2 separate regions of the Homo sapiens genome follow, and region 1 is linked to region 2. Evidence: fine-mapped expression QTL. Tissue or cell type: whole blood. Region 2 holds a variant in brackets; the other region holds the start of a gene. All regions are shown on one strand. Distances are between the middles of the regions.

What was found. PIP is the estimated chance that this variant, and not a neighbour inherited with it, causes the effect.
Region 1: it holds the start of COL8A2, and the variant in region 2 is fine-mapped to the expression of COL8A2 in whole blood (TOPMed, PIP above 0.99).

What each region holds. Positions count from the first base shown.
Region 1 is chr1:36,122,205-36,127,357 of GRCh38, reverse strand. COL8A2 (collagen type VIII alpha 2 chain) reads left to right here and starts at 2,136. Exons shown (of 4, transcript NM_005202.4): 1 at 2,136-2,301. RefSeq lists a silencer at 4,624-4,824.
Region 2 is chr1:36,150,004-36,155,312 of GRCh38, reverse strand. It overlaps a transcript of TRAPPC3 not described here. Among named protein-coding and RNA genes, the nearest start is that of TRAPPC3, 3.2 kb to the right of the region's middle. RefSeq lists an enhancer at 5,274-5,309. The variant G/C (reference allele first, on the strand shown) is at 2,778.

The DNA.
Region 1 (5,153 bases), 28 kb after region 2:
GGGCTGGTGTGTACCTTGGCAGGGGGACAGAAAAGTGGGAGGCCCTCAGAGGGCAGGCAGCAGAAGGGGGAAGGTTGAGGGGGGTGGGCCCTGACCCGAGACAGCCTGGGGCCCTCCCTGCTCCTTTCCTGGACCTGGTGAGGGCTCTGCTCTTTCCCACTGAAAATACACACACACACAGCCACACTCACCCCCACACACAGCCACCCACACCCCCCCACAGACACACAAACACACACACACACTCCCACCCACACTCACACAGCCACACACACCCACACCCACAAACACAGAGCCACACACACACTCCCATCCCCACACACAGCCACACACACACCCATACCCACAAACACACAGCGGCACCCACACACCCACACACACAGACACCCATACCCCCAAACACAGCCCCCCACACACACTCCCACTCACACCCCCCCACACAGCCACACACACAAAGCTACAATACACCCACACAGCCACACACACCCACACAAAGCCACATAGCCACATCCACACACCCAAATGCAGCCACACCCCCCACACCCCCCCACGCACATACCTCCCCACACGCACACAAATACACACCCCCACCCCTCCACACACCTACACACATGCTGACCCCCCACCCATGCGCGCACACACACACTTGCACACCCAAGCACACATACCTCCACATATGCCCACACCCACCTACACGCATGCACACACACACCCAGGCACGCACACACACACACATGCACACACACACACACACACCCACCTACACGTACACACACAGGCACGCGCACACACACATGCACGCACACACACGCCCACACCCACCTACATGCACACACAGACACCCACACTCACCTACATGCACACACGCACACAGACACACACACACACACACCCCAAAATCCTTTCCTGACCTCATCTCCCCTTCCCTCTGCACTTGCTGCCTCCTCCTTTCTCCCCTGCTGCCTGGCTACTGCCCCTACCCCCACCCCAACCTCCAACCCTTAATTGCTGTCCCTAAGAATGTCCTTCTGTGACAGCCCATCCCGTGGGCCTCCCTGGCCTTCTAGAAGCACTCTGCCTTTGCCTTCTGGGACACTGCTCTCCCGGTCCCTGCCATCTTCTCAGTCTCCTTTGCCGACCCCTCTCCCTGGGCAGCCCCGTGAATGCTGATGAGTGTCCTGCCCGCGCCCTGCCCGCCTCCCTGGGCCCGCTCCTTATTCTATGGCATCAGTCGCCATCTGCAAACCGTGGATTCCTCCTCGCTATCCCAGAACTCTCACCTCCCTTCCGGATCCATGGAAGTCCCACAGGCTCATCCAATTCATTACATCCGTCCTCCTTCTTCTCCTAGACCCTGCCGCCCCCAGGCCTAGCCCAAAGCCTGCGCACTGTCCTTGACACTGCTTCTTCCTAGGCCCCTCGCCCAAACTCTGCCTAGTTCGCCTCCTCACTCCCCTCACACTGGGCCCTCCCTTTCCTTCCCCCTCACTGTGCACCTCATGGGACCATGCCAGGGTATTCCCGCAGCCTCCTCGGTGGCCTGCCTCTATCTTCCTCCACACAGCTTCGGGAGGCTCTTTCCAAAGCACACATCTGACCACGTGACTGCCCTGCTCCAGAGCCTTCCGTGACTCCCCATTTCCGAGGGACGAGGTCTGGCCTGCTCCCGCCTGCCTCTGTGACCCCGGCTCAATGCCCTAAAGCCTGAATGTGCGGGTCACGACTGGCCCCTGTGAGTCCTCCGGGCTCAGCCTACCGAGGTCACGTCTGCAGGCAGCCTTCTGGGGACTCCTCACTGGGGGCCACCAGCCCGAGCTGCCCCTTCCCTGCAGGACCACGCCTGGCCGTCCTTCTCAGCAGCCGCGTCCGTCCCCACAGGCAGGTGGCCCCTCGAGGGCAGGGGCTGCGCGGACTCCCCGGCGGCCGAGCCGCGGGTCAGGTGGACGGGGAGGGATGGGGGCGGGCCGCCCGGGAGCGCGTGTGTGGAGGGGGCTCGGCGTGGGTGTCGGGGAGGGAGGCAGCCGTCCGAGTCCGCGCTGGGCGCGCTGGGCCGGGCGGGGCGCGGGCCTTGGCCGTGGCTGTGGAAAGAGGAGGGCGGAGGCCCCGCCCCGACGCGCCCCTCCTGCCGCCCGCCCACTCCGGCAGCCGCGAGGGGCGGCCGGCAGAGCGACGCGGAACCCCGCCGGCGCGGACCCCGGACCCCAACGCCGCCCGCCCAGCCGCGGACGCCCCTGCCCGGAGCCCTCGCCGCCCGGGCCGCCCTCGAGGGCCGGGAGCGGCGCCCGGCGGCCGCGCCCGCAGGTAAAGGCCAGGAGGCGGGCACCGGGGCTCGGGCTGGGGGGCTCCGAGGGCAAGACCTGGGCTGGGCTTCCCCCAACACCATGCGGGATAGCAGGGCCGGCGCCTCGGACTCCGGGGTGGGGACGCGGTGGGGGACTCGGGCCAGGGGGTCGCCTTAGAATGGGGGAGCCCATCCCGTTCCCTGTGCCCCGTTCCCTCCCCGGCAGGATCCCAGTAAAGCCCCCTCCTCCCTTCCTCTCCCAGAAGCGAGGGCTCCAGCATAAGACAGTGCCGGGTGCAACCCCCGACGATGTGGCTCTGGGCGCGTCACCACCTCCCGATCTCCCGTCCCACCTGTAAAGTGGGGATAAAAAAGCCGCCTTCACAGGGTAGTGGAGGAGAGAGGAGGGAGTGAGGGGCCTTAGCATCCCCCCGCTCTCACTCCTGCCCCCATCTCTCTGCCATTGCTGATTTGCTGGAGACCTTCCAGTTATAAGGTTTTTCTGCCTTAGCCCCCAGGTTCCTCCTATTCTAGGTGCCCTGTCAGTCCCCTCGCCCCAAACTGAAGACAAGTTCCCAGGAATGTTCCTGTCAGGGGCTCAGCATCCCCCCAGCTCCAGACTGAGACTTGCAGGGGGTGAGGGGCCGCTGCCTGGCCAAGAGGGACTGGGGTCCCAGGGCCCCAGAACAACCTCCCAGTGTCTCTGCCCTGGGTCTGGAGCCACCCTAGCCCCGGAAATCCTCCAGGTAGAGAAATGCTATTCAGCCAGAGGGCCCAGGAACGCTATTGCCACGGGGAAAACTTTGCTGGTTGTATGTGTGCACGCACGTGTGTGTGCCTGTGTGAGACCATGCTGGGTTCCTGACACAGACGTGCGGCTGACCTCCTTAGGGGTGCCGGAGCAACCAGAAATCATCCCTCCTGTCTGCTATCAGTACCTCTTGCTCAGGCTGGCAGCAGGGGCTCATCCACTCCTCTTAGCAGAGTCCCCTTGGCAAGGACAGCCTCCCAGCAGCTGTACTGGGCATTTGAAAAATCTGGGGGCCGTGGAGCTGGATGGCTGGAGGGTCAGGCAGCCTGGGGTTCCTCTCTGGGGACTGAGCTAAGATCGACTGATCCTTACTGCCCCAAGCAGAGGGGGCCGCAGGGCAGGAGTTGGTGATCTCTGGAGAGACACCATGGTTGGTGGTCTCCATCAGGGCACAGGTGCTGTCACTGGCTTCCCAGTGGACTGGTGAACACCTACAAACCCTTGGACACACAATGACCCTAGATGATAATGAGGAGAAACCACAGACATGCTCACCCAGCCACACACAGCCTTGCACCCTTCTGAGAGCCATGCACAGTCACACACCGACCCAAACATTCATTAGATTCATGCGGACACCCTCCTCTAATGAAACATACACCACCACAAGACACAGGCGGACACATGCACACACACCCAAACTCCTACAGACACATGGCAGGCCCCACGTGGCCCAGCCAGACATACTCAGACAGGACGGCACACACACACATACGCTCACACCCAGACACACTCACCAGGGTCTCTTTCTCTGGTTTCACTTCGTCTACCACAGTGAAAATGAGAATTTCCGCTCTTTGGCTCAGAGGAAGGGGAAAGAAAATATGGAAGTGAATGTGTCTGTTAGCAAGAGGGAGGAGAAAGATACTAAGCAGGGCTGTCAGCCTGAGCCCCTGTACTCCACTACCTTCTCTGCTCCTGCCTGAGCCGGAACAAAGGACGCACAGCCCCAGCTTCCTTGCCCTGCTGGCCCCCCAGCCCGCTCCAGAACTCTCAGTGGCAGGGATGGGGCACCTCTTACAGGGAAGTGGGGTCTCAGATGCGCTGGTCCCATCCGTGGCAGGAGGAAATTATAGTGTCGGGTCGGAGGAACGAGAGAGACACAGCGGCCTCTCCTCTGGGGTGTGGCTGTGGTCTCACGGTGCCCTACTAGGTACCCGAGGAGGGGCACCATGCAAGCCAAAGTGCAGATCAGGGAAGGTGGCACCTAAGAGGTAATCTGGCCAGGGCTTTCGAAGATGATAATTTTGACAGGTGCAGGGGGTGGAAAGGGTGAATGGGAGGGTGTTCCTGGCTGAGGGCACAGCTCGTGCAGAGGTGTGGAGGGGGAAGCTTCAGGGTTCTCTCAGGGACAGTGAGTAATGGGAGTAATGGGCACTGTTGGATCACACTGGGGAGTGGGAGGGACTCATGACTTTGAGGTCAGATTTCTAAGGGCCCTGTCTAGAGAAAGGGTGTGAGCTGCGAATGATATAATCTGGGAATCACTCTGGCTGCTCTGGGGAACAAGGATGAAGGGGGGATCTTCGAGGCAAGGGAGATCACAGAGGAGGCTGGGCAGAGTTTAAGGAGAAAGGTGACGGGGGATGAAGTGGGCGGTTGCCATGGGGATGAGAGGAAGAAGTAGATGGAAAGGAGTAAGCCGGTTGGCGATGGGGCCAGAAGCCTTGCACTGGATGGCTGTGGCCTGTCCCCAGAGAAGGCAGGTGCAGGGGAGATGTGGGTTTGGCGCTGGGGTCTGATAAGTTGAGATGACTGGGAGCTGGAGGCTGAGTGTAGCCTTGAAGCCTGGGTGGGTTTGCGAGGCCATATGTGGACACACATGTGCCCAAGTACCAGTCATGGAAGTCTGACTCCCAGAAAGAGAATTCCAGGCCCACTTTGTTCTGAGGGCATTTCCAGAGTGGGTGGAGTGTGGACAGCAGATCTTGAGTAAGGCAGCATGTGCTGTGTGGAGATGAGCTGGCATTGGGAGTCAGACAGATCTAGGACTTCCCAGCTCTGTGCCTCAGTTTCCCCATCTCTAAAATGGGAATGCTGTACTGGTCTCCAGAGTTGTTT
Region 2 (5,309 bases):
TGCCAGCTGAGGTGAGGGCTTCAAGCCAAGCCAGGCCCAGCCCGGGGCAGAGTGGGGAGCTTGCTGGGAAGGTGGATGGATGATGGTGGTGCTGCTGCAGGGACTTGGGTTGCGGGGGAGGAGGAGGGGCAGCTGTGCCCTGCCCACCCTGGCCCTGCCCTTTGTCCTGACTTCTAGAAGGTCAGTTCTCTAGTTCTTCATTGTCCAGAGATTAGGCCCAGTGAGATACTGTCCCCCTTGCCCCCCTTCCCTCCAGTTTCTCCTTCCTTTAAGCAGCTCCAGAAAGCGGCCATTTGGAGGGATAGAGTGGGAAACAAAAGGGTCAGGGGCTCAGGCAACCTGGGAGCAGCCTGTCCTGGGATGTGTGCGTATCTGGGGGCTTGGACACTCTTGGGAAGGCCTGGGAAGGGAATAGTGTCCCCTCTGGCCCAAAAACATTAGAAAAGGATGATGATAGAAGGGCGGCAACTGGAGCCAGTAACCTTGAGCTAGTGACTTAACTTTTCTAAAATCTAATTTGCTCTCCTACAAAATCAGAAAAATAGTAGTGCCATGAGGTATCTTGGGGTCTTTGTAAAGATTAAATAAGGCAATGGAAATGAAGTGCTGAGCACAGAACCTGGCATCTAGGAAGTGCTCAGTAAACAAGTATAATGGTGATGAAGGCATTGATGAGTAAAAGTGGAAGGACGAGGAGCAGATCCCCCATCTTTGTGTCAGTCATCTTATCTGCAGGGTGGGGGGACTGCGGGGATGACGGAGTTCATGACAGTCCTTTGTGAGGTCAGGGGCCTCACAGCCTGCCTCTTCCAGAGCTGGACAGGCCAGACCTGACTCAGGCAGTGACCAGACTCAGGAGAATTCAGGAACACGTATGGGGAGAGAGCCCTCTGGAATGGTTCTTCTCCCACCTCCCACCCCTTGTCTTGAGATTACTGCAGGGATGGAGATGGATGGATGGATGGATGGGAGTCGCGAGATACCCACATTGGCTACGGCTCAAGACTAGTGGCTGGCTGTGGTGGCTCACACTGTAATCCCAGCAATTTGGGAGGCCAAGGTGGGAGGATCCTTGAAGTCAGGAGTTCGAGATCAGCCTGGCCAACATGGTGAAACCCTGTCTCTGCCAAAAATACAAAAGTTAGCCAGGTGTGGTGGTGGGTGCCTGTAATCCCAGCTACTCCAGAGGCTGAGGCAGGAGAATCGTTTGAACCCCAGAGGCGGAGGTTGCAGTGAGCCAAGATCATGCCACTGCACTTCAGCCTGAGCAACAGAATGAGACCCTGCCACAACAAAACAAACAAACAGCCAAACAAACAAAAGGAATAGTGGAGGTGGAAATGGCAGCTAAAAATGAACAGATAGGCCAGGGACAGCCCACGTAGGAGGACTTGAATGCCAAATGCTTGGAAACAAGCATGGGGAGCTGTTGAAGATTATGGGGTTTTTCAGTAGAGGAAGGGTGAGCAGACTTTAGAACTGGAAATCTATTGTCTTTGGGATTGACTGTGGGGAGCTCACTAAAAAGAGCCCCTGGTATTAGCCTACATCAGGGGGTTCTCAACCAAGGGCAATTTTGCCCCCCAGGAGACATTTAGCCATGTTTAGAGACATACGGCGGTGGGCGGGGGGTGTGTCTCTAAACATGGCAGCTACCGCGTAGAAGCCAGGGATGCTGTTTACCATCCTACATTGCGTAGGACCATCCTCACAATAAGGAATTCTCAGGTGCAAAATGTCAGTAGTGCTAAGGTTGAGGAACCCTTCCCTAGCTTGAGGGTGAGGCACTCACAAGATGTTGGTGCTGGAGACCAGCAGAGCATCTGGGAGTTAGGCAGCTTAAACGACAGTTCTCCTGGCCAGACCTGAAGGTTTCCTGTGCTGCTGATGAGTCCACAGGGAGTGTGCGGAGGATGGCTGAGGAGGGGCCTGGAGAGCACCCGTGTTCCGTGATTGAGGCAGTTGGTGGACAGAGGAAGTGGACTCCTCTCCATTCTCCTCCTCACTGGCCAGGATCCCTGGCAGATTCCAGGCCCCAGCAACCAAGAGGGTTAAGAGTGTCTCTCTCTGAGTTTGGGGCTAGGTAACGCTGCATGGGGCACCACAAATAGACATCCCAGAGAAGGAGCAAGTAGGGTACTTGCTGAAACCCTAACATAAGAGGCTGAAGTCCCAACAGCATTCCCTGCAGTCTTTGGCGAGCGACAGGGACCTCTGGACCAGGGCAGTAGGAGATCGTGGCCCAGGGCAGTCTCCTCCTTCTGCACGGAAACAGGCATGAGTGAGCTGTTCCTTTCACCGCAAGGTTGGGCTGGGGCTGGGGGAAGCCCACAGAATGGGGATCAGAAATATGTTCCTATCCTGGCCAGGCACAGTGGCTCACGCCTAATCCCAGCACTTTGGGAGGCCAGTGCAGGTAGATCACTTGAGCTCAGGAGTTCGAGACCAGCCTGGGCAACATGGCGAAACCCTGTCTCCACCAAAAATACAAAAAATTAGCCAGGCATCGTGGTGCGTGCCTGTAGTCTGAACTACTCAGGAGGCTGAGGTGGGAGGATCACTTGAGCCCGGAAGGTCAAGGCTGCAGTGAGCCATGTTTGTGCCACTGCACTCCAGCCTGGACGACAGAGACCCTGTCTAAAAAAAGAGAGAAAAGATAGTAAAAAAAATCTTTAAAAAAAGAGTATACTAAAGAAATTTTTGGCCAGGCGGGGGTGGCTCACACCTGTAATCCCAGCACTCTGGGAGGCCGAGGTGGGCAGATGACCTGAGGTCAG[G/C]AGTTCACGACCAACCTGGCCAACATGTCGAAACCCAGTCTCTACTAAAAATACAAAAACATTAGCCAGGCATGGTGGCACATGCCTGTAGTCCCAGCTACTCAGGAGGCTGAGGCAGGAGAATCACTTGAACCTGGGAGGCGGAGGTTGCAGTGAGCCAAGATCACACCACTGCACTCCAGCCTGGGCGACGGAGCAAGACTCTCTCAAAAAAAAAGGAGGACAAAAAAAAAAAAAAAAGAAAAAGAAATATGTTTCCATCCTGTTTCCCCGAGGGGAAGAAAGGCAAGGATATTTTCAGCCTCCTAGTTTGGTGGGGCAGGATCCAGGATGAACCTGATGGAGAGATGAAGGAAATCACTGGGAGAGTTAAGAAAATTAACAAATCTCTCAGAACTGAGGCCTTGGATGCTGCTCCCACACCCACAAATTACTGCAGGAAGTGGGAGGGGCCTCACAGTGGGGGCAGAGGAGAGAATAGGCACCCATTCTCACTCCCACCCCAGCCTCAAGGCACTGCCCCAGCCTCAAGGGACTGCAGCAACACGGGGTCTCTAACCAGCACCGGCCTTCCTGGGGGGCCTCAGCTCCCAGGGCCCACTCCCTGTGGCTGGTGATGCCAGCTGCCCCTCCCTGTCCAGCTCTTGGGGAGGCGGGGAACTCAGATACAGGACTAAATAGATTCAACCCTTTGGGTTCCCAGGAGAGAGTCTTTGTCTAGAGCCCCTGATAGGAACAGAAAGCTATCCCTTGTGTTGTTTTCTAGGGAGAAGGAGAAGAGGGTGGTGAGGGGACATCTGGTGTTCCTAAATGTCCTGGCACCTAGAAGTGGTAAGGAGGGTTGGGATTTGGGAATGATGGAAACCATACTGAGAATCCTTGGAACAGCTGTCTAAGGAGTTTTGTTGTTGTTGTTGTTGTTTTGAGACAAGGTTTCAGTTCTGTCACCCAGGCTGGAGTGCAGTAGTGCAAACATGGCTCACTGCACCCTCCACCTCCTGGGCTCAAGCAATCTTCCCACCTTAACCTTCCTAGTAGCTGGGGGCCAGAGGTGCACACCACAATGCTCAGCTGGTTGTTGTTTTTTTTAATTTTTATTTATTTTTGTTAAAAAAGTAAATAAACAAAAGAGTGGCTATTTCATAACAGAACAGCCTTTTTAAAAATTATTTTTTATGGAGATGGGGGTCTCACTATGTTGCCCAGGCTGGTCTCAAACTCCTGGGCTAAAGTGTTCCTCCTGCCTTTGCCTCCCAATGTGCTGGGGTTACTGGCATGAGCCACTGTGCTCGGCCTAAGAAGCCTTTAAGAACCTATCTGAGTGAGGAGGGGATCATATAGATCAACCTGAGATGGCCCCCACCCCCACTGTTCATTCAGGACTAATGACACTGCAAGTCCCAAAGAGAAAGAGACGCCAAGAGGAGGAATCCCAGGCAGAGAGAGGCAAAATCTCGGAGGCTGTTGGACAGGCAGGGAAAGGCTCCACCTCCACTCTCTCTAGAACCGCCCTGCTTGACAGCAGGCAGGGTGGGGTTGGGTGGCTGGCTGTGAGTGTGACTCAGGTTTCTGTGGGCAGCCAAGGGCAGCCGGCAGGGAGGAGCCCAGACCGACAGACCGGCTGGCCAACTGCAGCTTTCACCTCAGCTGTCCTCTGTCCTGGGAATGCAGAGGGCTCTTGTCTAGCTGAGCTGGCCCTTGGGGGCTAGTTGACTCCTGCTTTCCTCCCCCAACCCCAACCAACCCTCAAGTTCCTTCCCAGAGCCCTCGGCCCTTGGCTCCCTCCCCTGTGGCATTACACAGGATGGAGAGTGAGGGGTCACTGCCTCTAGGGAGGAAACAGAATGTCTGGGGAAAAGGGTATAATAATGATTGGTCCTGCACCCTGAGGGAGGGACTGGGGGAACCCTGGGCACCAGCTTGCAGCCTCAGCGGCCCCCCAGCCCTCCCTAGCCTGGCTGGCTCGTGTCTGGACAGGCTGGTTGTCATGGTGAGGGCTAGGGGCCAGAATGCAGCTGCTACAGTCAGGCTACCAGGCCTAAGTGAACAGAGAGTGCTCAGGGACCCCCCAGCCCAGCTTCCTCAGAGTTGACCAGCTGAGAGACCGCGGGAGCTGAAACCAAAGAGCTGTGGTCAGGGACTATAGACTTCCCCTTGGTGATGGGTGAGAGTTCAGCCAGCACATTCCCTTCGTGTTTCTGGTGCCTGTTTGTTGGCTTGTTTTTGGAGGGTGGCTGGAAGGGAATACACGTTTCTTTTATGCCTTTTATGCGCCCAAGTGCTGGGCATGCGTGGCTCACCAGTCTTTACAACAACTGAGAGAGATTTAGCAACTTGCCTAAAATGGCAAAGCTGGGATTAGAACTCAGAACTGACGGCCACGACAGTTAGTGATCTTTGTTTTCTGGGAACCAGGCAGTGTAGCTGTTCTAGGGGGAGGGAGGGGGAGAAAGTGACTTGAACTTTACCTAAAAGACTGGATATTCCATCACGAGGCCACAGGTGGTAGAAGGCAGGTGCTGGCATCATTTG